Linked DNA regions of Homo sapiens: region 1 is linked to region 2. Evidence: fine-mapped expression QTL. A gene starts in region 2. The other region holds a variant in brackets. All regions are shown on one strand. Distances are between the middles of the regions.

Region 1 (15,256 bases), 46 kb before region 2:
CCAAGCCAGAAGCTGGCACTAAACAGGAGAAAGGGTAAAGAGACCAAGTTCTGGGGCTCAGGCAAGTACTAAACAACACTAGTCACAACAAAGGGGGATCACTCAGGAGTAACTCCCTCTTCCCCTCTTCCTGCTTTAACTTTTTTTTTTGAGACAGAGTTGCCCAGGCTGGAGTGCAGTGGCGTGATCTCTGCTCACTGCAGCCTCCATCTCCCGGGTTCAAGCGATTCTCGCACCTCAGCCTCCTGGGTAGCTGGGGTTACAGGCGCACGCCACCATGCCTGGCTAATTTTTGTATTTTTAGCAGAGATGGGATTTCACCATGTTGGCCAGGCTGGTCTTGAAGTCCTTACCTCAAGAGATCTGCCCACCTCGGCCTTCCAAAGTGCTGGGATTAACAGGTGTGAGCCACAGTGCCTGGCCGTTCTGTTTTTATAGTGGGGTCACATGTCGCCCGCAGCTTGGTTCTCAAGTTAAAAGGCGAAACTGTCAGGCTGGGTGTGGTGGCTCATGCCTGTAATCCCAGCAATTTGGGAGGCCAAGTGGGAGGACTGCTTGAGGCCAGGAGTTTGAGACCAGCCTGGGTGACATAGGAAGACCTCATCTATACCAAAAAATTAATTAATTAATTAATTAATTAGCTGGGTGTGGTGGCACATGCCTGTGGTCCCAGCTATTTGGGAGGCTGAGTTAAGAGGATCACTTGAGCCCAGGAGGTCAAGGCTGCAGTGAGTTATGATCGGGCCACTGCACTCCAGCATGGGTGACAGAGTAAGACTCTGTCCAACAAAAAAAAAAAAGTGAAACTAAACTATTAACTATAATAAAGTTATGCCCTGAGCATCCCTTAGTAACACACTGTCTCTGGGCAAAGGGAGCCAGGCAGTTCTCCCTCAGTGCCACGAAGATGGCTGGGGCTGTGGATAAGCACAGATGGCACTGGTGGCTTGAGGTTAAGGCCATGTTGTGAAACAAAGGAAATGGAAAACAAAAACACATCTTTAAACGTGAAGATACAGTAAGGTGCTCTCTCTCGCAGGAGAGACACACAGGCCCTGGTACCAGCAGAGGTGACGTGAGGCTCCCAGATCACACACAGGGGGGGCCTGTGCTCCTTTGAATGGAGAAGCTGGCAGAAGGGTCAGCACAAATAAGGTGGTGTGTGTATGTGTGTGTCTGTGTGTGTGTGGGGGTCTCTCTCTCAATCTGTAGAGTTGAATTTGCATAAGTTAAATGTACATATGTAACTCCATTATATATTAGAAAGCATATCAAGATAATAGCTAACTATATTGTAACGTTAAAAAAAAAGAAGAAATTCATCTTTAATTTATCACCTGCCTAAATTCCAAAGCATCAGGTACAAGAAGGAATTTCAAGCACAGAGAAGTGTTTTTGCTGGATTCTGTTGGGCAAACACAGCCACCTCCAGTATTTGCCTGGAACTTACTCTAGAGGTTTATTTAAAAGGTCATCCAGCAAAATGAATGGCTATCTTCTCCAGGGCTTGTGACCATAAAATGTCAGGTCCACAGGTCTTTCAGTAGAGCTTGAGGAAAAGAACTGCTAACATAGCACGTGAGTGGAAGCCTCACAAGTCCACAGGCTCTGACTGTTCCTAACACAGGCTGCTCAGCTCTACACACCGGCTGTGTCACTTTACACTCTGCCCTCAGACTCCCCTCTCTTTCTGCAAAACCCAAGTCCAAAGGGACTCTTCAGCCACTGAGGCAAAACGCAGAGGTGTTACATCATCCTGGGAAGCCCTCCCAAGAAGAAAACTCTCTCCATCAGGGCTACAGAGACCTGCTGCGTGGCTGCTCCAGACAACTGCACACTCAAATGGCTGGTGATGTCCTCTGCTGGCTGCGTGCTGAAACTCCGGTCAGATTCTAGTTAGGTGCCAAGACTGTTAGGAGACATAGGCTCGGGATGTTTCCTCAGTTTCCAGAGAGAATGCCCATCTTCACAGGCCCTCCACTCTGCTTACTTGAGTGCACACACTCAAGGGAAGAAAAGCAAATTTTTCATTTCAGAAAAAAATATTTGTCCACTGAGAAAAAAAGGTGACCTTTACTCTGACAAACAGATTTGTTTTCAGAGTGACAACATGGACTGAGGATGCCCAACTAGGAGTGTGCTGCTGGCACCTGGGGCCAAACCAAAGATGTTATCAGGTCCGAACCTGCCTCTACCTATATTTTATTTTGGCTCTTATATATTGATTTAATAAAATTCAACAAATACGAGTGCTGTGAGGCATACAGAGATTAGAGCCGGACACAGTGACCGCCCTGGTGGCATTCGTAATCTGAAGGTAGGATGCATGATGAATACACAGGCAGCTACTGTCACAGACAGGAGCGGTGGGCAATGGGGTCAGAGAGATAGAATAGGATGATACTATGGGGAGACAATCATGAGGCTGAGAAGTACCAATTTCACTTAGTGCATCATGGGGAGTACCAAGATCTCAGAGAGGAGAGATATTTCTGAGCACCAAATCTCTCCATCAGGAGCTGGGTGAGTCATGTCTCTAGTTTATTTATTTACTTATTTTTAGAGACAAGGTCTTACTCTGTCACCCAGGCTGGAGTGCAGTGGTACAACTACGGCTCACTGCAGCTTTAACCTCCCATGCTCAAGCAATCCTCCCATCTCAGCCGCCTGAGTAGCTGGGACCACAGGCACATGCCACCATGCCCAGTTAATTTTTTTTTGTAGAGACAGGGTCTTGCTATGTCGCCAGGGCTGGTCTTGATCTCCCGGGCTCAAGCAATCCTCCCACCTCAGCCTCCCACAGTGCTGGAATTATAGAAGTGAGCCATCCTGCCCGGCCTTCTAGCTTAATCTTCACAATTCTGAGCAATGGTGTCTTCCCCGTTTTAAAAATGAGGAAAAAAAAAGAAAAAAAAAAAGCTAGGATTAGAGGACAGGTCTCTGATTCAGTCCAAAGCGTTCCTTACTTTATCACACTCAAGACTCATCAACTCCCCCAACCAGAAGTTAAAATAACAGCTTTGTGCCTATTTTCTCCTGTCTGATCAACTGTCAAAATGTTCTATATTAAATAATGTTTCTTCAAATTGAAAACTGAATTTGTTGGAGCTTCTCTACAGTGGTCTTCACAGGTCTTTGAAAAAAAACATTTCTTTCGTTTTGCATGTTTCTCACAACTGTAACTGACTTCTTGTTAGAGGAGTTTTTTTCTGCAGAAGATACATCTGGGGGCTAATTAATTTGAATATTCACATTTAATTATCTCTAAGATAAGGCCAGAATGTTAACAAAATCATACTGAATATCTCCCCAAAGATCCAGGAGAGCGATGACAGTGAGAGCAAGAGAGGATGGAAGTGCTTCTAGAAAGGTGACAGGTGTTTGATTTGGGGATACATTTTTACCCTACTTTCATGGGTGAGAATAAACCCAGGAGGACAAGCATCAGTGGTGGGGGAAACACTGGGAGTGAAGCTTTGTGGCAGCTCCACGAGTCTGCAAACTGAGTTCCAGGCCTTCCTGTGTGTGCACATGTGCATGTGCATGCATGTGTGTGCACACAGGAAAGGTAAGGAAGCCGGCAAGGGCCAGAGTTTAGGAGAACATTTTGTCAGTTCTTTTCCAGATCCTGAACTGCCAGAGCCTCCCTGCTCCACAGGCCTGGAAGCCAGGGCCCTTGCTGCTCCTACCACAGACACCTCTGGTTTCTTTTCTGGCCTATCTACCCCTAGCCTGGTGGACCTGAAGCCAGCAGGTCAACAGCAGGTCCTTCGTGAGCCCATCCCACTGGGCTTCACCCTTCTCCACTAGGACACAGCCCCCACTGGAAGCCCTTCTTTTCAGGAGGGCCAGATGTGGAGTAGACCCTGTGTGCACATCTCACCAGTCCTACTGGGGAGGTAAGGCTGAGGCTGGGAAAGGGCTTCCTCATTAGCTTCAGGAACAAACACCTTGGGCCTTTCATCTCAAAATGGCAGCAACATATTCAGCTTCCCAAACACCCATTAATAGGCTCATCAGAAATCCACTTTGAACACAGCATTTTCCCCTCACTGGAGGCAAATTCTTCTCCACAGCTGTCACACATTACATTTTCACTGTTGTTGCTAAATGCTCTATTCCTGAATTGCAGGATCTGCACAGGAAAATTCCAATGCAGAGACTGTTTCTGCCTGAAATGACCAAAAGTGGCCTGAGGAAACAAAAGAGCAATCCTCTTCCGTTCCCGAACTGGTTTCTAAATACAGGACGGAGGCCACTGGGCCAGGCTGGTACATCTGTGACCTTTGTGCATATCGTGCAAACTATAAAATATGAATGTTAGGAGAACAGCCCCATGAGTTACAATAAAACCACTTAAAAAGAAACTACTTTTTTGCTCCAAGGAAAAATAAATGTGCTTTTCTAAAGTTCAAAGAAAACCAGTTAAAACCCCTCAGAACTGTATCCACATGTTAAATGCATCTGATCCCACTATCTTCCTGTTCACAAACAGCACGCGGAACTGGTCACATCCTCCCTAGGCACACCAAAGCACAGTCCTCTCTCCTCACGTTGCATTTCAACCTGGTTTTGACACCATGCTTTAAGTAGGGAGGCAGTTTATTAAGAAGCTCCAGAGTTCCAGTCTCCAGGGTTCCACTGGAACCCTGGATCCGTTAGAGAACTGGTCCTGCAAACAGCCAGTCAAAGATTAGTGACCTAACTTTAGGAGAAGGCACCACTATTCCCAGACCTGGGCTGCCAAGGTGCTAAGTGCAAAGTTCCCAGACTCACTCTGTGCTAACCAAACAGGATGTACGCTGACGCTCAGAACACAGAGCACCCGTGTCTTGTCCCCATCTGCCTAGTCACCTCTCTCCTGAGGACATGCACATAGATGCCAATGGTCTGCTCTTTGTCCAACACAGTGCCTTTTGGCTACTTCCCAGGCCAAGGCTACCTCAAAATCTGTGCCAGCGTTATGGGGAGGGAAGATTAGAGCTGGAAAATCACATTATATTTGCCACTATTCCTAGTGGAGGAAAACTCAAATACCTAAATGTGAAGCCCCTGGATTACCTACACAGAATGCTCTTTTAAGAACACGCTAATCAACTAGGAGCTGCGCTGGCTGGAGAGCAATGTTATAGAGCGGAGAGAGTGAGGAGGCTGCACCTGGCTCCCGATATCACAGCCATTGCAGTACAATGAGCTCCATAGAGATAGCACTGGGGCAAGTGAGAGCCAGATGGGCACTGGGCAATTCTGTGCCTTGCTGAGGAAAAATAACTAAACATGGGCAAAGGAGACCCTAAGAAGCCAAGAGAGAAAATGCCATCATATGCATTTTTTGTGCAAACTTGTAGGGAGGCACATAAGAACAAACATCCAGATGCTTCAGTCAACTCCTCAGAGTTTTCTAAGAAGTGCTCAGAGAGGTGGAAGACCATGCCTACTAAACAGAAAGGAAAATTCGAAGATATGGCAAAGGCAGACAGGGCCCATACGAAAGAGAAACGAAAACCTGTATCTTTCCTAAAGGGGAGACAAAAAAGACGTTCAGGCTGGGTGTGGTGGCTCACGCCTGTAATCTCAGCACTTTGGGAGGCTGAGGCGGGTAGATCACCTAAGGTCAGGAGTTCGAGGCCAGCCTGGCCAAGACAGTGAAAGCCCGTCTCTACTGAAAAAAAAAAAAAAATTGCCAGGCATGGTGGCGGGCGTCTGTAATCCCAGCTACTCGGGAGGCTGAGGCAAAAGAATCGCTTGAACCTGGGAGGCAGAGGTTGCAGTGAGCTGAGATTGCGCCATTGCACTCCAGCCTGGGCAACAAAAGGGAAACTCCATCTCAAAAGAAAAAAAAAAAAGTTAAAGGATCCCAGTGCACCCAAGAGGCCTCCTTCGGCCTTCTTCCTGTTCTGTTCTGTCCTGTTCTGTTCTGTTCTGAGTATCGCCCAAATATCAAAGGAGAACATCTGGCCTGTCCACTAATGATGTTGCAAAGAAACTGGGAGAGATGTGGAATAACATTGCTGCAGATGACAGGCAGCCTTATAAAAAGAAGGCTGCGAAGCTGAAGGAAAAGTAAGAAAAGGATATTGCTGCATATCGGGCTAAAGGAAAGCCTGCTGCAGCAAAAAAAGGGAGTTGTCAAGGCTGAAAAAAGCAAGAAAAAGAAGGAAGAGGAGGAAGATGAGGAAGATGAAGAGGATAAGAATGAGGAGGAGGAAGATGAAGATGATGATGAATAAGTTGGTTCTAGTGTAGTTTTTTTTCTCGTCTATAAAGCATTTAACCTGTACATAACTCACTCCTTTTAAAGAAAAAAACTGAAATGTAAGGCTGTGTAAGATTTGTTTTTAAACTGTACAATGTCTTTTTTTTTTTGTATAGTTAACACACTACCAAATGTGTCTTTAGATATCCCTGTCCTGGTGGTATTTTCAATAGCCACCAACCTTGCCTAGTACAGTATGGGGATTGTAAACTGGCATGGAAATTAAAAGCAGGTTCTTGTTAGTGCATGGCACAAATTAGTTATATATGGGGATGGTAGTTTTTTCATCTTCAGTTGTCTCTGATGCAGCTTATATAAAATGACTGTTGTTAAGTGAATACCACTCTGTAATTGCAAAAAAAAAAAAAAAAAAGAAAAAGTTGTAGCCATTTTGTTGACATTCTGAATGCTTCTAAGCAAATACAATTTTTTATTAAAAATAAATAAAGAAAGAACACACCAATCAAGAGATGACTTTAAGGATTAAAATGCTGACATTTGACATCAGCATTTGTACTACATCTTGCCTTTCTTTGATGTGCAGAAAACAACTCATAAAATGGCAAGCAATGATGTTAGGAAAAAGTAGGTTCTACAAATATTTAATGAAAATTATGTTTCTTTTGTCAGTAATTATATAGATCATTACTAATAAGCCATACTCAAAACTTGACCCCATTCTTGCTCCCAGGGAGTTCACAATCAAGAAAAGGAGATAAGAAAACTTTATAATGCTCTTTCGGGCTCAAAGACTTGAATAAATGAACTTGCACTGGAAAACTTGGCATCACAAACATGTCAATTTTCCCTAAATTACCTATAAACTTAAGAGATACACAATAAAAATAATAAGATTTTTATATGTGGAATTAAACAAGCATTCTAAAGTTCATTTGGAAAAATGAACCAGCTATAATAGCCAAGAAAAGTATGAAAACAAGCAGTGCTGGGGTATGAGCATCGCCCCACTGCCCACAGCAAAACATAGTACAAAGCTGCAATCTGCTGATGGTATATGTTCAGGACCATCAACAGAACACAAAAGACTGGAAATATGCCTAAATACATCCAGGAAATTTAGTTGGTGAAAAAGGTGGCATTTGAATAATGGGGTAAAGATGGATTGTTTAATAGTGTTGGACAAAGTGTAGCCGTCTTGAAAAAAATTATGTTGGAGCCACACCTCACACCAGGATAAATTCTGGAAGGATGAAACATTTCAAAATAAAAATGAAATCATTCATATGCTAGAAGAAATTCTAGGCTTTTAAAAATAATCTTGCAGTGAAGAAGACCTTTCTAAGGAAACCAGAAATCCCAGAAGCCACAAAAGAAACAATTGAAAAATTTAATTATGCAAACATTAAAAAAAATTATGCGGCCGGGCGCCGTGGCTCACGCCTGTAATCCCAGCACTCTGGGAGGCTGAGGCGGGAGGATCACGAGGTCAGGAGATCGAGGCCATCCTGGCTAACATGGTGAAACCCCGTCTCTACTAAAAATACAAAAAAAATTAGCCGGTCGTGGTGGCAGGCACCCGTAGTCCCAGCTACTCAGGAGGCTGAGGCAGGAGAATGGTGTGAACCCAGGAGGCGGAGCTTGCAGTGAGCCGAGATCACGCCACTGCACTCTAGCCTGGGTGACAGAGCGAGACTCTGTCTCAAAAAAAAAAAAAAAAAAAATTATGCATGGCAAATACCACTATGGGCAAAGTCAAAAGACAAATGACAAACTGAGAACAAATATTTGCAATTCATATCACAAAGGGCTAATTTCCCTAGTACATAAAGAGCTCCCTCAAATGATTAGGAAAAAGACCAATGACCATCAGAAAAATGGTTAGAGGCCACCAACAGGCAGTGAACAGAAAAGGAAATAAAAAGAGTTCTAAAATATGAAAAGATACACAGTCTCTTTAATCAAAGAAAGACTAATTAAAACCACAGTGAGAAAACATTTTTCACCTACCAGATTGGCAAATATCAAAAAGTAGAACTCCTGATGTTGGCAACGTTTTGGGGAAATGTGCTCACAGTGCTGGTGTGGAGAGGCTTGAGGACAACAGCTAGCAAAATTTTCCATGCACATCCCCTTTGACCCAGTAGTTCCACCTCTAGGAGTTTATCCTATACTGACAGGTGCGCATCGTGATGAAAATACAGAAGCATTCAATGCAACATTGTGAAAGCAAAAGATTACAAATAAAGGAAACCTCTATCTAGGAGACTGGTTAAACAAACTATTTTTTT[A/TA]TGGAATACGAAGCAGTCAAGACATAAATGGAGGAAGCTCTTTCAGCACTCCTATGGACAAATCTCTGAGTGATATTTCACAAAGAAAAGATGGAAGGATAAACAAGAGCCGACTGACAGCAAGGGCAACACGGAGGGTACAAGGTCATAGGTTCTACTGGCTGATAAAAGAACCTCTGGGAAATGCAGCCAGGCTTCTTGACCAGGGTGAGCCTTGAGCACAAATGTAAGAGGAAGGAAATGATGCAGCTGCCCTGGAGCTTTCCGTCAGAGGAACAGTTACAAAAAGCTGATAGAAGCCACTGTTGATGGCTGTGGGTTAGCCCTGTTGAAATGGCAGCCCTCCCCTACGGTATGTGGGCACAGGAAAACATTTTCTCAGATGGTCAACAACTCCATCCTTGAGAAACCCCAGCTTAGGCACCAGACCTTCATCTTGTCCACAAAGTGAGAGAGCGCCACCAAACCATGCAGATAAGCATGTTCTAGAAAGTCCTACTAAAGCAAAGTCCATCTCTCTTTACATATAAAGGACAAATGCAAAGGACAGTGCTGGTGTCACTGCTTATTATTAGGAATGAACAAGATAATGGCTTTCAAAACTATGAAAGATGAAATGCATATTCAGAGTCCTCTTAATTTCATATCAATTTGAAATAGCTATAAGAAATTAGAAGCTTAAAAATCACCCATATCCTCACAAGCCTTGCAAAAATATTCTCATTTTTGTTTCCTTTTCATCTATATCTATCTGAAAGCAGAGTATTTACATAGTTACAACAATGGTGCTCAGATAGAGATATATAATTGTCTTCTGCTTTTTTCACTTATTCTCTATTTTTATAGATAATTAGTATGCTAAGTTCTGAACGTCTGCATAAAATTCTATCCTGTTTATTAGCTATAGTTAAGGGAGGGAGCAAACATTTATTTAGCCCCTTCTATGGGCATGTTACATAATTCAATTTGTCCCTTACAGCGATTCTTATTATTAGGACCCCCTTTACAGACAGAAACTGAGTGTCCAACAGCCTACTGCACAGCGGACCCTGCATTTGAACTCTGTGTGTGTCTGACCCGACAGCTCTTTCTTTCCCCTGCATTATCTTGCTGCTGCCTCCATTGTTGGATGCTGCTATTCCCAGTTTTTACTATAATAAACAATGCCAGCAAAACATCTTTACATATTTTGTTTTCATCTTTCTTGAATTTTTTTTTCATGTTTTTCAACTCCTGTTTAAAAAGTCCAACAGGATGCCTCATCTGTCTCCTGACTCCTGCCCCTGAGAGATGACTATTCTTAACTCCTTTAGTCGTCCCTACCATCCCACACTTGCCTTTATTTCTTAATGCCATGCTTATCCTGCTTATGCTGGTTCTTCAATTTCAGTTTTCAATAGCACCTATTGAACTTCCTACTCTGGAGGGTGCTAGCTCTCTTACGTCTCTCCTAAGACTTACATTTTCCCCTCGCCCATTCTTTTCAACACTGTTACAGCAACACTTATGGTTAATTTTCAGTGTTTATAAAATTATAATTATGGAAATATTAGCCACAAAGAAGTCATATGTTGTATTCTTTTTTGTGAAATTTTTTATTTTCCCTCAAGTTATCACTTTTATCATTTCCTCATCAGCTTAGTTTTCTATGTGCCAATCATCAATTTGTCTCCAGACTCTAGGGGACCTGTTAGTCTCTCAATAGTCAGAAACCAGTTTTGCTTTTTCTTGGACACACCACTGAGGAGTCCCTGTGCCTGTTCCCCTCTGGAAGGGCTTCCCATCCTGCCCCTTCACCTCTCTGCTGGGTCCTAGATCCCAAGGCCACACCAGATGCTATCAGACAACAGAGAAGAGAACCATAAATGTCCAGAAAGCATTCATCAGAAAGAAGGTGATTATGTTCTCTCAAATAAAGAGGCTGTGTGGAGGTATGAAGGGATTCCAGGTAGAAGGCATTGCAAATGTAAGACATAGTCAAGAGAGAACATGCAGTATGAGAAAATGTGGAGAGATCTGATGTGTCTAGAACACAAGGAATATAGGGAAGAAGGAGCGAGGGCTGATGCTGGACCTCGCCCTACAGACAGTGAGGAGCCACTTGGTTTAAAGCAGGGGCATGGCATGATGAATTTGTGCTTTAGGAAGATAATTTGGTGGCCTGCAAGATCAATTAGAAAGGGTAGAGAATGGAGGGAAAGCTATTGCATTCTTCCAGGTGAAAGCTGATGACGTCCTGCAGTGAAGCAGAGGCACTGAAGGAGAGATGGAGTGAAGGACAGAAGGAAGGAGGCCCACGTGACACAGGCTGCTGCCTGTGGCCATGATTATTCTCCTCTTCTCTGGACACAGGTGTGCTGCTTCTCAAGTTAGGCATGGGCACGAGCCTTGCTTTAAACCAGGGGTGTCTAATGTTTTGGCTTCCCTGGGCCACTTTGGAAGAATTGTCTTGGGCCACACATAAAATACACTAACACTAATGACAGCTGATGGACTAAAAGAAAAAGAAAATCACACAAAAAATCTCATAATATTTTAAGAAAGTTTATGAATTTGTGTTGGGCTGCAATCAAAGCTGTCCCAGGCCACATGCAGTCTGTGGGCTATGGGCTGGACAAGCTCTCAAGCTTGTCCAACCTGCCTTATTTTGTTGTTATTGTTCTGTTTCTTTTGTAGGCTTTTAGCAGCCTAAAGCCATGGTTTGTAGTTTCTGTCTCTAGTGATAAGCAAAAAACAGGGATGAGGAAGGGGCTTTACCGGACCAACCAGAAACAGAAACTGAGAACCCATGACTGTATTATCTCCCTTGGACACCCAAACCAATGAAATGGGAAAGGAAATGACCAAGTGCCATTTCCGGTAGCAGCCTGTAAGAGCCAGTGTGTGAGGTGTGACATTGCTCTTCCTGGCTCGGTGATGACCACGGAAGCAGGTGTTGAGATGTCACCTCCATCAGCTGGGGTCCTGGTGGGATGACAATCAGCAGAGCCCTCCTGCCCATTGAAATAAACACGTAGCATGAGTGAGAAATAAACATTTGTGGCTTTAAGATGTGCAGGTTTAGAGGTAATTAGTTACCACAGTATAAACTAGTTTACTTCGACTAATACGATGTCCAACTTAATATAATTTTGACAATATTGCCATATTTTCCTCTGAATATCAAATAATATTTCATGTTTTAAGGCTTCATTGTTACCAAGTCTTAACATTATGAGGTGCTTATTACATGTATTTCCTTATGTGGAATTTATCTAGGCACATCTTTTACCCACTTACCCACTGATGTCCTACTGACATTCAGGTGTGCTTGTGTGACCTTCGTGTACATTATGTCTTTTGCTATTTGTACAACTGATCTAGCTGATAATATTAAAATAAAAATAGCTACAATAATAGCAGCTATATTTACTGAACTCTTACACATGCCAAGTATCCTATAAATCATCTTACATGCTGTTCTTTTTTTTTTTTTAATCAGCATACTGAACCTATGAAATAAGTGCTATTATACCCATCTTACAAATGAGGAAATAGAAGCTCGGCAAGGTGAAGCCACTGGCCAGCAGGGGGCAGGGCTGGCATCTGAGCCCAGGTGGGTCTCACTGCTGATCTGGACTCTGGATTCCCGGGGGGCAACAGCTCGCTAACTTCACCCTCTCACTTGGGCCCCTGGATTTACCCTCTCAATCTTAGGGGAAAAACCTTCAATCAATTTGGCTTTCTCCTCCAGTTTCCATTTTTTCTCCTTCCTTCTCTGGTGTTTGTTTCCTGACTCACTTCTTTGGTTGCTATTGTGCTGACCTGTTTATTCACCTCACTCCTGAAAACACATTCTCAAAAATCCCTGATCCTTTCTGGCCAAGGTAGATGGCCTTTGGTCAGCCCTCATTCTTCCTGAGTTTCTGACACCCTCTTCAATGTTTTCCTTCTCTGGCTGCCATGGAACTGGAGGCTGCTGGTTCTCTCCCTACCTTTCTTACTGCCTGTCTCTGTCTCTTCCACCCTAGCCATGGCCTGCCTCAGCCATCAGTCTTTAGTGTCTCTCTCTGCCCACCCCCACAACCTCCCCTACCTGCAGCTGATCTGGAATCTACACATCTGGTCTTGAGCTCCCACCTAAGTTCTAATGCCATAATTGCACATAACCCTGTGCACATCCTGTGGACAAGCCCCAAGCTAAACAACTTTCCTTGAGAAAGCAGCTTCCCCATTAGACTTCCCTATTTCTGTCAATGATTCTATTCTCTCAACCGCTCAGTAACCTCAGCATAATCTGTGATTCAGCCCTTTCCTCTGATGCCCAAGGCCATTCCATTACCCACCAATACCACTGATTCCACCTTAGAAGACCTCTGGAATTTGTCCCATCCTTCCCTTTCCAACCACCTACCACCAGTGCTCACAGGATCAAGCCCAAACTCTTCCTCTCTGGGAATTAGAGACTCCTCGTGATCTGATCTCCTCTTCCTCCCCCCCACAGACCATAGGGCTCTCTGCTACAATCAAACAGCTCTCAGCTCACCAGATCGTGGCATAGGGACCTGGTGAGGAGCTGGCCACGAAGCAACTATAGAGACCAGACCAGTGATGGGGCCCAAAACCCATTAGCAAACAAAATCAAAGGGCACAGTGAGCAAAGGGCAGACTGGGTAGCAGGGCCAAACATGATGCAAGCAGCACCAAGATCATTTTTGGGAGTTACAAGAGAGACAATCAAAGTCTAGCCAAATGAAGATCCATGGAATTAGGAGACAAGAATAGAGTAGCTGTGGTGACGGCAAAGCATTGACAACGTGGATATGTGTCAATGGCAGCAAGGCCTCTACCACCTTCTTATCCTGCTGACTGGTTGGAAGGCCCACAGGACAAAAGGACAAAGGTGGATGGGTGAAAAGTGTTGGCCTGGGCAGCAAAGCCAGTTTTCTGCCATGAGTGCTTGTTTAAATAATTGATTTTACTGGTTCATGCTCACACCAACATCTGTGCCTTCTCTCCTATTGTCCCATCTATCCAAAGCCAACTAATCTTTCAGGATTATGGAAGACCTCATCAGTCAAGCCACCACAGGAATATCCCCTCTTTCTCTAAATTCCTTTATCACTTACCTGAATTACTCACTCTGTCAATCACATGTTCCTACCAAAAGACTCTACTGAAGTTAGTGTGTACTGACTCTACAAGAAGCAGCAACCACAGGGAAGACAGAGAATTTTTAAGACAGTCTCTGTCCTTAAGCCTCTCAGAATACACTTGAGGTGTGACGAGAGATACATATGTGGAAAGTTATTGTTTCCATCCCTGTCCTTAGGTAAGAGCCAATGAGACAGAGACAGGTAAAAGTCAGGAGCTACTAGAAGAGCTACGATTTGAGAAGGCCTGAGGATTCTGACAGACAGAGAAGGTGGAAATGTGAGAAAAAGTATTGTGTGTGATATAGAAGGGGCTGAGTATGGTGTACAGACGGTGAACAGACTGGAAGAGCAGGTTACTAAATATTACTAATTGACTAATTTTTAAAATATACATATATATATATATATATGTGTATATATATATATGTATATATATATATTCACTGAGAAGAATCTTCCTTTATTCAAATCCCAAGGAAGGAAAAGTCCATACTGCTGTGGCTTGGCAGGTGTCAACATTTTAAAAAGCATTTATGGAGTTTCTCACTTTACATCAGTAAGAAATTACTGTTCAAGCTTTTGTGATCTGGCTGAAAACACCAGTTCAGGGTCTTGCCAGCAGGAGGATTTGGTGCTACATATCACAGGAAAGTCAGGTTGGTCATGGCAATGGCATTAGTACTCAGTGGAAGGGTAGAAAAACATATAACCTGCTGTTTCTCACAAATCTCTCCCTTCCTGGGAGGCTACAGATGGTTCTGGATCAACCACTGATCTCCAGGCAGGGTTCCCAAATGTTTTGGATTACAGACTCTTATAATGGCTACCTCAGAAGTTAAGCCATCTGGTTTGATGCCATGCACCCACGCTGACCCAGAGCCCTCACTCTATGATTAGAAACTGACAGCAGGTAGAGTTAGGGTGGTTCACAAGCTGCCACAATGGCTGACTCATTTCCATGGCTCACCGTGATACTACACTGCAGGCAGCTACCTCAGGCAGATGGAGGGCCTCTGAGGAGTACCCGGCCCTTGGTACTTGGTAGAGGGCACTTCTCAGTCTGACTACTGACAGTCATGGGGTAGCAAACAGCAATGGCATCTCATCCAATCATGCATAAAATCAAGTCTTCAAGGACTACAGCCTTCTGTATTAGTTATAGCTTTCTAGAATTTCATGGAGGGGTAGATTTCCTTATAAACTCAGGAAAATGCTTTCCTTAAGTAAACATTACACCATCTAATAAATTCTGACCCTAAAGCTCAGGATCCCAAACAGACTCCATTTGCAGGGAAGTATTCTTGATGCTGCTGAAGAAGACTGGGCTTCTAAAGCCAGTCACTTCACTCACTGTTGCTTCAGACAAAGAAAAGCGTAAACAGCCGTCAGCTCTTCACTCTCCACATCACTGCATGACACTGGCACTGAGAGTTTAGGAAAAATTCTTACTTACCCTCCAGAATATATTTTCCAAGTCAGTTTACTGTCTTAATTTTATTTTACCATAAAGTATATACTATTTTGTAGTACAAAGTGTACTATCATAGTGAAGGAGGGCATGCTGAGAAGCAGGCAGAGAAAAAGAACAGTGGAGATCAAAATTGGCAACCTCTGAA
Region 2 (15,256 bases):
GCTTGTAAAACATTTTCAATTATCATTAACACGAAACCAAAACGTCTGAGTTTGTAATCTAATGAGAACCCAAGGAACCTCAAGGACACATCCTCAGCCCTGGATTGGGAAATCCATAGCACAAAATGAATGTGATGGTGCTACACGAGGAAAGCAAAAAGTGTGGTGGGGACACGGAAGAGAGGTCATGCTGTATCTCAGAAGCCATCTGGGCCATTACCGGGCATACCAAATCATGGATTTAGTAAGTTTAAGTACATGCTTCCAAAGAACTTATGTGTAAATACCACTGAAGAGCCTTACTTAATTCCAGCAGGTTGCTGGGGTCTCACCTCAGCCCCCTCCCACTCCTCAGTCCTTAAGAACTAAAACGTGGCACTTCAAACATGACAAATCCAGGCTTCAGGATTCAAAGAACGATTTCCAGTATAAGTTCACCTCACTATAAGGTGCTACAATTGCATATCAACATTGTGTAGTCTGTACCACCTGAAAAACTGGGCGCAAAGCCCCGCCAAATGCTGCTGCAGTTAGGTTAACTAAACTAAATCAATGGCCTGATTTCCCAGAAAAAGAGTAACGAGCATTGTTTAAGGAAACTGCAAAAGAGGAACCTCTCCTTGAGTAGAATCCTCGACTTTAGGCCCTCCCAAACAGCATAATTCAATGGCCATTAACTCAACCTTTTTAGTAAGCTAAATATGTCCTGGTTAGAAGGTGCTCTTTAATCTGAGATATTGATCTTCCAACATTTTTGGTGCTAAAATATCTTTTTTTTTTTTTTTTTTTTTTGAGACACAGTCTTGCTCTGTCACCCAGGCTGGAGTACAGTAGCTCAATCTTGGCTCACCGGAACCTCTGCCTCCCGGGTTCAAGTGATTCTCCTGCTTCAGCTTCCCGAGTAGCTGGGATTCTGAGTGTGAACCACCATGCCCGGCTAATATTTTGTATTTTTAGTGGATATGGGGTTTCATCATGTTGGCCAGGCTGGTCTCGAACTCCTGGTCTCAAGTGATCCGCCTGCCTCGGCCTCTCAAAGTACTGGGATTACAGGTGTGAGCCACCGCACCCAGGCTAAAATATCTTTTTAGATGACAGGGCTTTTGTATTTCCTTATTTGTTTTTGTTGTTGTTGTTGTTGCTGTTTTGAGACGGAGTCTTGCTCTGCCGCCCAGGCTGGAGTGCAGTGGTGCGATCTTGGCTCACGGCAGCCTCTGCCTCCTGGGTTCAAGTGATTCTCCTGCCTCAGTCTCCCAAGTAGCTGGGACTACAGGCGCACACCACCATGCTCAGCTAATTTTTGTATTTTTAGTAGAGACGGGGTTTCACCATGTTGATCAGGCAGATCTCAAACTCCTGACCTCAGGTGATCCGCCCGCCTCGGCCTCCCAAAGTGCTGTCACTACAGGCGTAGTGACACCAAGCCCTGCTGTATTTCCTTATTTGAAAGAATTAAAATGTAGCAATCCATGTTGGGCTTCCTGATTTTTGTTTTTTATTGCCCTCATTGACATGACTAAGTAAACAGTACACAAATACATGCCTACAGTGACTGTACACATAGGGAGGCAATCTTTCAAAGCTTCTCTTTTATCCAAGATAAAATGAGAGGCTGAGGCAGGAAAATCGCTTGAACCCGGGAAGCAGAGGTTGCAGTGCACCGAGATCGGGCCACTGCACTCTAGCCTGGAAAAAGTGGAACTGATAACACCACCTCCCTCTCCTCACCTTATGTAACACAGTATCTGTGGTACAACTGACTAATAATGTGGGGGCTCTGCAATGAGCAAAGGCCAGAAGGTAAGGACTCTAGATTAGACTAATAGACTAAAGATTCCATTCAATTTCCAGGTGGCTCTAAACCAGACTCAGAGGTAAATAAAAGCAAGACGAAGGTTAAGGCACATTCAAAGGAAAGAGGAAAAAAAACCCGAGAGGCAAGACCTGGGAGCCACTGAAGACTATAAGACCATGTTTAAATCAGTGTGGTTATTTTAAACATAAGCCTAGCCATAGAAAGTTCAAATACGAAGAACCTTGAAAACTTTCTTCTTAGAGTCGGCATCAGTGGAACCCTTTGTTAGCGAGGCCAGGTCAGGCTCAGACCTTGGAAGTTTAAAGCGGTTTGGAGATCTTGGGAAATACTTTCAAGGACAGCAACAAAATTACGTGTGGGCTTGGGGAAGACGCTTTACAGAGGAGCAGGTGTGAGAGCTGGTTTTTCCTGGGGTGAGAGAAAAGAAGGGGTGAGACACTTAAAGCTACCCAAACAGAAAGTGCTGTGACAAAGGGCAGGCTTCCTCTTGGACGCCCAAAGGCAGGACAAATGGAGTGATGCTGTGGTGCAGGAGACGGGATGAAATGCAACAGAGATGCTGGAAATGAGGCCAGGCACGGTGGCTCACGTCTGTAATCCCAGCACTTTGGGAGGCTGAGGCAAGAGGATCACCTGAGGTCAGGAGTTTGAGACCAGCATAGTGAAACCCTGTCTCTACCAAAAATACAAAATTAGCTGGGGGTGGTGGCGTGTGCCTGTAATCCCAGCTACTTGAGAGGCTGAGGCAGGAAAATCGTTTGAACCCGCGAAGCAGAGGTTGCAGCGAGCCAAGATTGCGCCACTGCACTCCAGCCTGGGAGACAAAAGTGAGACTCTGTCTCAAAAAAAAAAAAAAAAAAAAAAAAGAATGAAAAAAGATGCTGGAAATGTGACTTGGGGAGGCCAGGAAGCTTCTCTGGAGAACAGAGAGCAAACGGCAAACTTTCCCTGGAAATGCTAGCACATTCTGCACAGACGGCAAGGCGAAGAAGGGCCCAAGGACCAATGCGTTCCTCACTCTCCAGTGCCCCAGCTCTCCCTTCTCAGCTGACCTTTAGAAGCTCCCCTGCACCTCCCCCGGGCTCTCACAGAAAAGAAAAATATTTGCCTCCAAATATTCACAAGATCTTTAAGATCTCCAGCAAAGCTGCTGCCTAAATAAGACTGTTTTTTAGCATCCTTAGAAACAGAAAACAGATATCTAAAATAGACGGCCTTCATAAAAAATGACGTGGAAGCTCTTTTCACACTGCCAAGAAATATTAAGTGAAAAAGGCAAGGTTCCAAATAGCATGTATGCAGTGTGCTACCATTTCTGCAAAAAGGGGTGGTGTACAGAATATGTTTAACGAATTTGCTTACAGATGTATAAAATCCCTTGGAAGTTCAGGGACCACTTCTGGAGGATGAAGAAATCGCTAATACTGGTTGCCTCTGAGGATCAGGGGTCAGGGGTACACACAGATGTATTTACTAGTTAACCTTTTGTGCCTTTAAAAAATTTTCTTTCATCATGTGAATGTATTGCCTATTTTTAAAAACTAAAATTTGAATTAAAAAATTTTAAAATTTCTATTAAAAACAATTTTAAAACAAAATAGTTTTTAAGCAACAAACCAAACTAATTTGTTAATCTTGTCAACTGTGTTCCTGGCACACACCAGATGCTTAATTTGTTGAACTTAATGAACCTCCACTTAAAGACAACAAAAGAAAATCAGAAACCAGGCAAATCCAAGGGTACCAACGTTCCACTTCTCTAAAAAGCTCTTCACCTGTCTGCTATTTATTGTGAAAGATCAGACAATGAGTCGGTGTGTAACAAGCCCCTCACCCAAATGGCCCCAGTCCACAAGCTTCAGGGGTAATGGTGGAGCTTATCGTCTGTCCACACCAACCATTTTACAAACAGAAAACATTCAATCCAAAAATATGATGCCCTGGACAAGACAACAAAAATCAATCTGCAGATATGAAAATCCTGAAAGGAGATAATGTAGCATCTGTATGGTATCAACAAAGAAACAGCAGCACAGGGCTTAAAAATGTCCTACTCATGCACTGGCCAAAAAGGCTGAACCATGAAAAGCTGCTATAAAATCCTGACACCAGACACATTTAAGAGGCACCCTGAACTTCTCATTGCTCTGTTCCTGGGGATAGCTTAGCCCAAGATGAAACAGAAAGGCTAAAGCAACTCATGCCCCACATCATCTATACTCTGAAACTGGTCATGGAGTACTCAAAACTCACAATGCAATAAAAATGGGAATACTGTAAGCTGTAGGTCATGGTAGAAATTCTGCCACACAAAATTCAATTATATTGGAAATGTCTCTCTCCTGGGGCTTTTAAAAGAGCCAGATTTTAGGCAAAAAATAAGACAGACTCTACCCCTGTCTCCCATAAGACCAAAGAAATTATTTCCTGCTCGGGGCAGGAGCTCTGAACAAGGGCAGTGAGAACCACTACAGAGGTTATGGGTCCTGCCGGAGATTACCAGGAAAAGGCGTAAATGCTTAAAGCAACGAGTAACAGCAAATGAGAAGCTCATCCACCAAAATACTGAGAAAAGAGAGTGAGAAAGAGAGAAAGGGGCCCATATTAATACACAAGCAAAGAAATGAAAACTATTATTCTAAAATGGCTGATCTCTAGAACAGCTTAAACAAAAACCGAAATTCAGAATCAACTCAAGAAAAATAAAGCATGAGAAGGTGCCATTTAATGAAGTGATAATCTTTGGTTCAATCTAGAAAACAAGTAAAAACAGAAGAGAAAATCAAAGGTGACTGGATTCCTGCAAAAAATGAAAGTGGCAGGCATCTTTTCATCAAAAGGGAATTGGCTGGCACACTGAGAGTGCCTATTTGTCAGACCCACGCAGGCGATAAAGGAAATGAAGGTGAGAGTAAAAAGGGAAAAAAGTGAACGACCCTGACTAAAATGAGAGGAAAAAGACCATTCCCTTGTACTTGCCATCTGGTTTATTTCAAGCTTTGGAAAAGAACAGGAAAAACACAGATAAACCAGTGAACCAGCTAGATTGCCAGCACGGATCAGTCACACACTTTTGCTTCTGCCAGGCCAGGCAGGCGCTGCTGGTGCTCCCCCTATTCGAATGACTAAGTAACTTCCTTAAATGCAGTTGACACATGATCCCTGAACTTCCGAAAAGCACTTAATACAGTGGCTCATAAAATCTTAATCTAAAAATGTTCATCCATTTAGAATCAAGCTGCATCACACTCATCGCTTGGGAGGAGGGCTGAAGAGAGGGAATACATATTTGGAAGGACACCATGGACACGGGTATCATCCAGGACTTTACCATTTCGAGGGATTCCCACCCCTCACTGCCTGCTTTTAACGATAATTTTAAAGGGTTCAGAGCCTAAGAAGAATGTAACTGCAAGGGGGAACTAACATAGAAACTAAATTACCTGAATCACAAAAATAAGTAAGGTATAAAATGCAACGTGACTTGGAAACCCCTTGCAGCTGTCTGTGTTAAAATGAAATCTGGAATATGTTAAATGAATTTGGGGGTGGGGGGAAGGGGACTGGGGGAAAAATTAGCTCTTGATAGAGTATTGGGTGGTGGATATGAAGAAAAATGTACAAAAAGGCAACAGAATATCATATCTAGCAAATCTATTGTGCTTACCCTGTGCCAGGTACTGTTCTAAATGCTTCAGATGTAGTAACTCCATGCACTTCTCAAAACAATCTTCTAACATAAGTATCATTATTATTTCTGTTTTAGAGGTGAGGAAACAGAGGCACAGAGAAGTTAAGTAGCTTGCCCAAGGTTGTACAGCCAGTAAGAGGCAGGGCTGGGATTCAAATCCAGGCACTCAGGCACCAAAATCTGTCCTCCTAACCTCTCTGGACTCCCCTAGAACTTAAAACACTGAGAATGGGCAAACTAAGCTTGGAGTGAAATAAGTCATGCACTGGCTAGATCTAAATACAGTCAAGAGATCAACCCTTAGTCATGGGCCTGTGATGACCAACCAGCCCTGTGACCACCCCAGGCCTCAGTTTCCTCACCTGTGCATTGAGGAGACTGAATGAGAGTCCACCTAATTAGACTTAGATAGAGATGAGCTCTATCTAAGGTGCCTTCAGCTCTAAAATGTCACAGTCCGTGCTGACTACCAGCTGTATATGGACTGCTTTCTGACTAGATGTTCAAAGATTAATTCATCCTAAAACACACAGCAAGGTGTGTTAAGATTCTTTCTCTGCCTCCTGACCTTTAGATTATTATGTTCTCTCTATTCCGGCAAATGACAGAGGGTAGTGAAGGATTTCTCTTTTGGACTCTGCTTAATGTGGCTGTAAGGAAACGGCCTTCGAAAAGCTCTGGGCACAGATCTTGTTGACTCTGCCAAACCTGCAGTCTCTCCAGGTCCCTCTGTGGAGCCTGTTCTTGGAACATGCCTTTGGATTTGGTTACTGGAATGCAGGTGAAACTGACAAACTGGAGGTCCAGCAACCAAAAAAGAGAGATTGGGAAGATTAAGAGAGCGGTCCATGGTAGTTCAAATACAAGGAGTTTCACAGTGGCTAAATAAACCTCTATCTTTTTGTATAATCCAGTCTCTTTGCTAACACCCACTCTTGAGAGCTGAAACCTCAAAATTCATTATGGGTGAATTCAACAGCCACTTGGAACCTAATGGACCCCCAGAAGTACTCTTCTCAAGCTAGGCATCAAAGGCCACTTAGAGTGCATTTGTGGGTAGAGAAGGCCCTTACAGATGGGTCATGCAGTCCTCCCTTGGGAGTCCTAAGCATCCGACACAGGTGGCTGTCATCAGGCCACTGCTTGGACATCGCCAAGGTCGAGGCGCTAGCTGCCCGGCCTGGCAGGCAGCCTCCTGCGCTGCTGGACAGCTCTAGCTGTGGGAAAAGCTCACGAAGGGCCTAGAACAGTGCCGGTCGCGGGGCCGAACTCGGTAAATGTGCTTCCAAGTGGGTCAAAAGCTGCCTTTCTAGAACTTAAACCCACTGGTCCTGCGTGAGCCCCTGGAGCCCCGAAACACAGAGGCCTCTCGGGTATCTCGGGCTGTAATCAGGCCCCTCGGCCCTCTCCTTCCAGGTGCGGATCCCGGACCTTCTTCGCCGAGCCTGAACCGGCAGACCCCTCCCCAGGCCCCTGAAGACCCAGGAGTGAGCACCAATGGGGGAAAGGCCGCGGTCGGGGTTGTCCCCAACCTCGGTTCCTCGGGCAGAAGGGGACAAAGGGCCTCAGGAAGGCGTATCCCCCGCCGCGATCTGGGCTGTCCCCACCACTGGGCAAGCCAGCCCCTGGGACCCCCACGGCGCCAGATGACAGGCCCCCCAGGATCCCCTCAGGCTGCGGCGTGATGGGCCGAGCTACGCCGGGGACCTCGGGGCTCGGAGATTCGGTTCGACGGGTCCGGGGTGCGATCCCCGCTCCGCGGAGCTCGCTCGGCCGTGGCTTTACCTGCGTGTGATTGACTACAGGTGCTCAGCTCGCCCCCAGTCTGGTTCCTGCAGCTCCCCGGCTGCCAGCGGCGCTCATGGATATACAGCCGGAACCCCTGGCCAGTGCAGCTCCCGCCGCTACCGGCCCCGCCCAAGTAACTGCCGCCACGCCCCTGACGACCGCTTCTGCCACGCCCCTAACCACGGAAACCGCTTGTTCATTGGGCAGTTCAGCCGCTTCTCCACTTGCCCCGCGCGCTCATTGCGTCTAGGAGGGGATCCATTGATCAGCGAAGCTGTTCCTCAGAGTGGAGGCGGGATTCTTAGGGGAGAGCTCCTCAGCAATTGGTTACATTTGACGGCTTTAGTCCAGGGACCCAGACGCTACTGGATAAGGCCAGCCCGGAGTGGGCGGGGAAAGGGGAGGAGGGCTAGAAGGTGGGTCGTGTTTGATGTCGATGGGGGCGGGGTGAAGAGACGGGTAATTGTGACCGCAAACTGCTTTAGAGGGCTGGGTAAGGTCAGCTGTCGACTGGGCTCAGAGGAATGAGGTCGGCTGGTAGCTCAGCTGCTGGTAGCTCAGCTGGGGCTCTTATGGGTCCAGGCCGACTGACTGACTCACGTGTACTCAAATTTCGCAGGGGTGAAATTTGAGGTCATATCCCGGGAGAGAGGAAGAAGGGTCGTGAGTCACCGAACCCGAAGGAGAGGAAAAGATGTGGAGGCAGCGGTCTATGGCCTCTTCCAGCTCCGGACGGGGGATGGGGACGCTCTGGGCAATACGGGCCTCAGTTATTGTCCCACTGTCCTTTCAACCCTTAACCAACCCAGTTGGAGGCCGCCTGGAAGAATGTAGCCTTGGAACTAGGGCCTGGAATTGGGGCTCCTACCGGTTGTGTGGGCTTGGGCAAGTCACTTAACCTTCCCGCATGCTCCCTTCACTTGGCAACTGAGGGTAACAATAGTAGTTGATGAGAAGATTAAATAAACTCTGATAAATGCCAACAGTGGCTGGCACTCAACAGGCATTCAATCAAGGCTGATTCTTCCCCCATCACCCACTCACCTCATCCGGCTGGGAAACTAGGCCCATTTCTAAAATTCTATGAGCCTGAAACTGCTTTTGCAATGGCATGTCGTGTACCAAGAATAGAACACTTGAGCGACTTGAAATGCAACCCCTGTAGGGCAGACAAGGCCACCCTACCAAGGCCCCATAGGGCTCGGAGAGAGGGAGCAGGGGATGAAATGAGAGGAGCGATTTAGTCAGAGAAGGGAAGTGGCATTTGTTACCATGTAAATTTTTCCCAACATATTTCAGGTTGTGACAAGGAACAGTGGGCTGGCTCAAGTTTTATGGAGCGTAACCAAATAACATCCTTTGAAGGCTGATCAGCACCGGACCAGAAATCATTGCATGAGCTCTATCTGTCAGAGACCCCTGAAACCCATTCCCCATTCTGAAGGTGTAGACATCACAGAGTGTGGACAGAAATAGCTTCTCAGGCCTGAATGTAGCCCCAGACCCTTTGTGTCTGTCTTTGAAAGAACTCACAGCCATGGTACATCAGAGTGAAGGAGAAGAAAGAATCCTTTGCCATTGCTCTATTTTTCATTCAGTTGTCATGTTACCTTGAAAAAAAAAGGTTTCATCTCAGTGTTTATATATTCCTCTGTATTCTCTTTCATCTTGGAAAAGAAAAACCCAGGCTTCAGTAGCAAAGTCTCTTAGTGATGAACCCCATCGTCCTGACTCTGAGTTAAAACAGTTTGGACTTCCAAAAAAGAGCTTTAGATTATCACTAGATAAGTATATAAGGTAATGCATATGTTAACTAGCTTGGTGTAGCTATCCCACAATGTATACATGTATCAAAACATGGACCGGTACAGTGGCTCACGCCTGTAATCCAACATTTTGGGAAGCTGAGGCGGAGCCCAGGAGTCTGAGACCAACCTGGGCAACATAGTGAGACCCCGTCTCTACAAAAAATTTAAAATTTAGCCTGATGTGGTGGTGCATGCCTGTAGTCCCAGCTAGTGGGGAGGCTGAGGCAGGAGGGTTGTTTGAGCCCAGGAAGTTGAGGCTGCAGTGAGCTGTGATCGCACCACTGCACTCCAGCCTGGGCCACAGAGTGAGACCTTGTTTGACAAATAAACATAATAACATGATAAACATAAATAAGTAAAGCATGTTGTACATCATAAATATATACAAATTTTGTCAATTAAAAATTAATAATAATTTAAAAAATAGGCTGGGCACAGTGGCTCAAGCCTGTAATCCCAGCACTTTGGGAGGCCAAGGCAGGAGGATCACCTGAGGTCAGCAGTTCCAGACCAGCCTGGCCATCATGGTGAAACCCCATCTCTACTAAAAATACAAAATTAGCTGGGCATGGTGGCACACACCTGTAATCCCAGCTACTCAGGAGGCTGAGGCAGGATAATCGTTTGAACCCAGGAAGCAGAGGCTGCAGTGAGATTGCACCACTGCATTCCAGCTTGGATGACAGAGTGAGACTCTGTCTCAGAAAAAAAAAAACAAAAAAGATTTGTCACTAGTTTTGGAGGGGTGTGTACACATATCTATGTACACATTTGGTTCTGATCCACAGTTTTCTGGTTCTTGTCTTTAAACAGTGCTGCTTGGTAGCCATACACATGGCTGCATGCATGTTACGGAAATAGGCCCAGCCCAATACAGGTTTGCTTCTGCCTGTGTTTGCTAAGGGAAAGTGAGATGTCTTGTTAGGCCCTGAAAAGCATGAAGTGGCTCCTGAGATCCAGGATGATTTCTCCAACTTGATTCAGAGCCACAAAAAGCAGCTGTTAGGAGTAGATTGCAGATGGGCTCGCCATTGTGTAAATGGCTTTTTTCTCCCATCTCAGGAACATAGGTTCAGCCACCAGTTCCAGAAAAGGACATCTTTCCAGTTCAGGAATTCTAAAACACAATTATGTCACAGAGGCTCAAAAAGAGGCACAGACTGAGCTCAGGAAGAGGAGGAAGAGTAAAAGGATCCGGGCATCTTCTCTGCAGCTCTGGCAGGCTTAAAGAATGATCCATTATCATTTCCCAGCACACAGAACTGTTTCCTTAATTGTCTCTGGTTTCTGTTTCCTCCCTTCTGCTTGCAGTCTTGCCATATTCTGTTTAATCATATTATTTCATTCTATAAATCATTTCTGAGGGAGGCCATTTAGGAGACAAAATGGACTTATTTTTGCCTTCAAGTTTAGTGGCCCGTTGGGATTGAGGATTTGGTGAGCCTTGGCCTGAGATAAGCAGGTGTTGGGATGTGGCTGTAAAGTGAATTTTCAAAACCGTGACAGTACCTTGTAATAAAAAAGAACAAGGGAGAGGGTATGCCCCAGTCACCTTCTGGGATGGCCAAAGCTGCAGGACTTCATTAAAGCAGAACTGCTTCTAACTCAACTGGGGCCTCTGCAGGATTTACTAACCTGAGAAAGTCAAGGTACTCTGGGAGACAGCAGGGAGCAGTGGTTGGAGCAGATAATATGTTCTATTTATTCTTTTAAGGAAAATCAGCAATTCACTCAGTTTGTCATTTTTGTTATTCTGTGTCCTCGGGGGATGGTTCAGAGAAAGGGGATTTGGAAGCTCTACTGCTGGGGATTGGATCCTGATTCCATCCTTCCTAGCCTTGTGACCTTGGGCGAGTACAGCACATCTCTGTGCCCTACTTTCTTCTGTAAAACGCAGAGGACAGTGAAGTGCTTGTCTCATGGGGTCCTTTGAGTGGCAGATGAGTTCACAGATGCAAAGTGCATCAAACAGTACCTGGCAAATACCTAAAAATGTTTAATAAATGTTTGCCACAGCTATTATAGGAGCCCATTTCAGAACCTTCCTCTAAGGTCCTCACTCATTTTCTAAGTTCTAGCCCTCAGAAGTAGTGATCACAGGATTCAGGATTTTTAGAAAATATAGATAGACTTTATTTTTTAAAGCAGTTTTAGGGCCAGGCGCCGTGGCTCATGCCTGTAATCCCAACACTTTGGGAGGCTGAGGTGGGCGGATCACTTGAAGCCAGGAGTTTGAGACCAGTCTGGTCAATTGGCGAAACACCGTCTCTACTAAAAATACAAAAATTAGCTGGGTGTGGTGACGTGTGCCTGTAATCCCAGCTACTTGGGAGGCTGAGGCAGGAGAATCGCTTGAACCTAGGAGGCGGCGGATGCAGTGAACCAAGATCGTACCACTGCACTCCAGCCTGGGCAACAGAGGGAGACTCTGTCTCTAAATAAATAAATAGTTTTAGGTTTATAACAAAATTAAGTGGAAAGTACAGACAGTTCCTATATACACACTCTCCAACACATGCAGGATTTTTTTTTTTTTTTTTTTTACACTAGCAAAATCTCACCACCTGGTGCGAGAAACTTTTCCTTTCGAATATGGTTACCAAAAACGGTTTGAGGACCGAGTTAAGGTTTTTGAGACTAGACCTCATCAGTGTAATCACTGTGAGGGAAATGGAAAGGATGAGGCTAAGAGAATAATAGTAAAAGCTGCAGCCTGGAGGTTCATAAAGTATTCCTGCAGTCATGACATGGTGCAGTCTGAGGGATCCAATATTGTGGCTTTATTGTCACAGCCGGTGCAGTCTGCATGCAGTCTAGGAAGGAGGTTCAGAATGTCCTGTTACCAGGTCGACTGTCTGGCTTCTTATTGGTAATGGAGATGAAGTTTGTTTAGAGGCTTTAAGTCCCAGCATGCAATAGTTCCATGAGGACAAACTATGATGAAATTCAAAAATGTGGTCCTTTTGTTATTAGAAAAGGCTTTCTGGTGGCCAGTGAAAACGATCATGAAAAATAATCTTGTCTGTGATTTGAGCTGCTTTCTTAAGCTATATGTGAGTTGTCTATAGTAAAATCATAAGATGAACACTCCTGGCTTATGTATGTTGTCCTGGCAAAATTTTAATAGTGCCCTCCCTCCCACCAGGTGACTCTCAAATAGTCCCAATTTGGTTGATAAATTTTATGGTAATATTTATACTTACATATATAGGACCCAGTACTAAAAATGCTCATGAAACACACAAACACACATACACGCACGTGCACGCGCGCACACACACAGATGAAAAAGTGTTCTAATCTTATAATCAGATACATACAGAATATCTGACAGGTGACTGGCTAATGATGACTTCTTCTTAGTCACCATGCATTCCTCTTCCTGATGTCATTCTTAATTACAGAAATAAAAATTGAGTTTTTCATACTATTAATTGCAAAACAGTCGATAAAACTTGTGCATTAAATAAGCTCATCATACACCCTTTCCTACATAATTTTATGTTATTGAGCTATTTTAAAACTATTTCCGGAGAAGGCGAGATGCAGTGTAAAAAAATAACAACAACTACAAAAAACCCACAAAAAAACAAAAACAGGCCGGGCACAGTGGCTCACACCTGTAATCCCAGCAGTTTGGGAGGCCCAGGCGGGTGGATCACTTGAGGTCAGGAGCTCGAGACCAGCCTGGCCAACATGGTGAAACTCCGTCTCTACTTAAAATACAAAAATTAGCCCAGCGTGGTGGCAGGCGCCTGTAATTCCAGCTACCTGGGAGGTTGAGGCAGGAGAATCGCTTGAACCTGGTAGGCGGAGGTTGCAGTGAGCCAAGATTGCACTGAGATTACACCATTGCACTGCAGCCTGGGCAACAGAGTGAGACTCCGTCTCAAAAACAATAACAAACAATTTCCATCTTTCCAGAGACCCCTATATTATTTTACCATATATTTAAATTAATTTACAAGACAGTAAACATTTTTTACTGAGCAAGACATCTAATACTAGAAAGACAGAATCATGAAGTCCCATTCATTCCTAGGTGGGGATGGATATAGGACAAATGGGAAATATTGACGAGATAACTCAAAGGACTGAGCAATAAGCACAGAGTGCAATCAGTGTCAGCAATAATTATTCAGAGGAGGCAGCAATTTCTTCTGACTTGGATTCTTGGAGATTTGAATTGGTTTTTGAAGGTCTATGGGCTGAATTTGGTAGGGCAGCATTGGCGGTGAGGGAGCATGGCATTCCAGGTAGGCCTGTGAGTGGATGAACACAAGATAGTTTGTCCATAGCAGAGTCAAATAGGGACCCAGTAGGCGAGAAGATGAAAAAAATGGATGGGGCTGGTGGTGGAGGCCAGATAATGCCTTCATCTTAGTTAATGGCTTCGTCTCAGCCCCTTGGGTATTTGGATATCCTCGCATAGTTGCAGAGCAAACATCCCAAACTCCAGGCATCTGCAAACCACATTGATAATTTTGACCCTATCTCTGTACTCTCTGCTTTATTATTTACTTAATAATGTTATTAAATTGACTCAACTTTTAAAATTAAATACCTTATTCAGCCCCATCCTAAACCAGTGGTTCTCAACTGGGGGCAGTTTCATCCCTCAGGGGACACTTGACAATGTCTGTGGTTGTCACAACTGCAGGGGTGCTGTTGACCTCTAGTGGGTAGGGGCTAGAGATGCTGCTAACCACCCTCCAGTGCCCAGGACAGCCCCACAACAAAGAATTATCCCAAATGTCAATAGTGCTGAGGTTGAGAAACCTTGTGGGCCGAAGCAATAATATATGTGATATTGCAGGCTTAAAGTGTGATTATAGTTATTCTAATTACATTAAAATCATTTCATAAGGATTACATTTTATTATTTTTATTTATTAATTTTTTGAGACAGAGTCTTGCTCTGTTGCCCAGGCTGGAGTACAGTGGCACGACCTTGGCTCACTGCAACCTCCATCTCCTGGGTTCAAGGGATCCTCCCACCTCAGCCTCCCGAGTAGCTGGGATTACACGCGTGCGCCACCACGTCTGTCTAATTTTTGTGTGTGTGTTTTTAGTGGCCAGGCTGGTCTTGAATTCCTGACCTCAAGTGATTCCCCTGCCTCGGCCTCCCAGAGTGCTGGGACTATAGGCTTGAGCCACTGCACCCGGCCAACTATTACATTTTTAAATATGACATTTTAAATTTATGTTTTTAAATGTTCTTCCATGTGCTATTCTATAATCATCTCTTGTATCACCCACAATGCAGACGTGGCATTTAAGTTACATTTGATTTGTATGCCAGGGTTCATAGCAGCATTATTCATAATGGCCAAAAGGGGGAAACAACCCAAATGTCCATTGATGGATGAAGGGATAAATAAAATTGGTAAGTACAAGTAATGGAATACTATTCAGCTTTCACAGGGATGAAATTGGCCGGTGCAGTGGCTCATGCTTGTAATCCCAGCATTTTGGGAGGCAGAGGCAAGAGGATTGCTTGAGCCCAAGAGTTCAAGACCAGCCTGGGCAATACAGTGAGATCCTGTCTCTACAAAAAAGTAAAAAAAAAAAAAAAAAAAAAAAAAATTAGCTGGGCATGGTGGCGTGCTCCTGTAGTCCCATCTACTTGGGAGGCTGAGGTAGGAGGATCATTTGAGCCCAGGAGGTTGAGGTTGCAGTGAACTGTGATTGTGCCACTGTACTCCAGCCAGGGAGACAGAGTGAGACCCTGTCTCAAGAAAAAAAAAAAAAGGAATGAAATTCTGACAATTCTGACACATGCTGCAATATGGATGATACTTGAAGACATTATGTAAAGTGAAATTAGCCAATCACAAGAGGACAAATACTGTATGATTCCACTTACATGAGGTGCCTAGAAGAGTAAAATTTGGGCCAGGTGTGGTGGCTCACGCCTGTAATCTCAACTATTTGGGAGGCTGAGGCAGGAGAATCACTTGAACCTGGGAGTGAGAGGCTGCAATGAGTTGAGATTGGGCCACTGCACTCCAGCCTGGGCGACAGAGTGAGACTCCATCTTAAAAAAAAAAAAAAAAAAGTCTCCTTTTCTCTTTACCTTATCTCTTTGTTAAGCTGTCAGCCTGCTATGGTATCACATACAGCCGTTAGCCTCCACCAACTGCTGGCTGATTG

The links.
Region 1: its variant is fine-mapped to the expression of ABHD2 in whole blood (TOPMed, PIP above 0.99).

What each region holds. Positions count from the first base shown.
Region 1 is chr15:89,126,517-89,141,772 of GRCh38, reverse strand. The region is part of intron 3 of ABHD2 (abhydrolase domain containing 2, acylglycerol lipase); the gene reads right to left. It also overlaps the pseudogene HMGB1P8. Among named protein-coding and RNA genes, the nearest start is that of ABHD2, 46 kb to the right of the region's middle. RefSeq lists enhancers at 1,212-1,711, 1,712-2,213. The variant A/TA (reference allele first, on the strand shown) is at 8,506.
Region 2 is chr15:89,080,600-89,095,855 of GRCh38, reverse strand. ABHD2 (abhydrolase domain containing 2, acylglycerol lipase) reads right to left here and starts at 7,400. Exons shown (of 11, transcript NM_152924.5): 1 at 7,293-7,400. LOC124903573 reads left to right here. Exons shown (of 7, transcript XM_047433432.1): 3 at 3,615-3,680; 4 at 4,573-4,721; 5 at 6,924-7,021; 6 at 7,170-7,788; 7 at 7,915-8,295. The coding sequence ends at 8,129. CARMAL (coronary artery disease region linked MFGE8 regulatory lncRNA) reads right to left here. Exons shown (of 4, transcript NR_183882.1): 4 at 11,627-13,365. RefSeq lists enhancers at 6,741-7,260, 7,202-7,381, 7,992-8,637.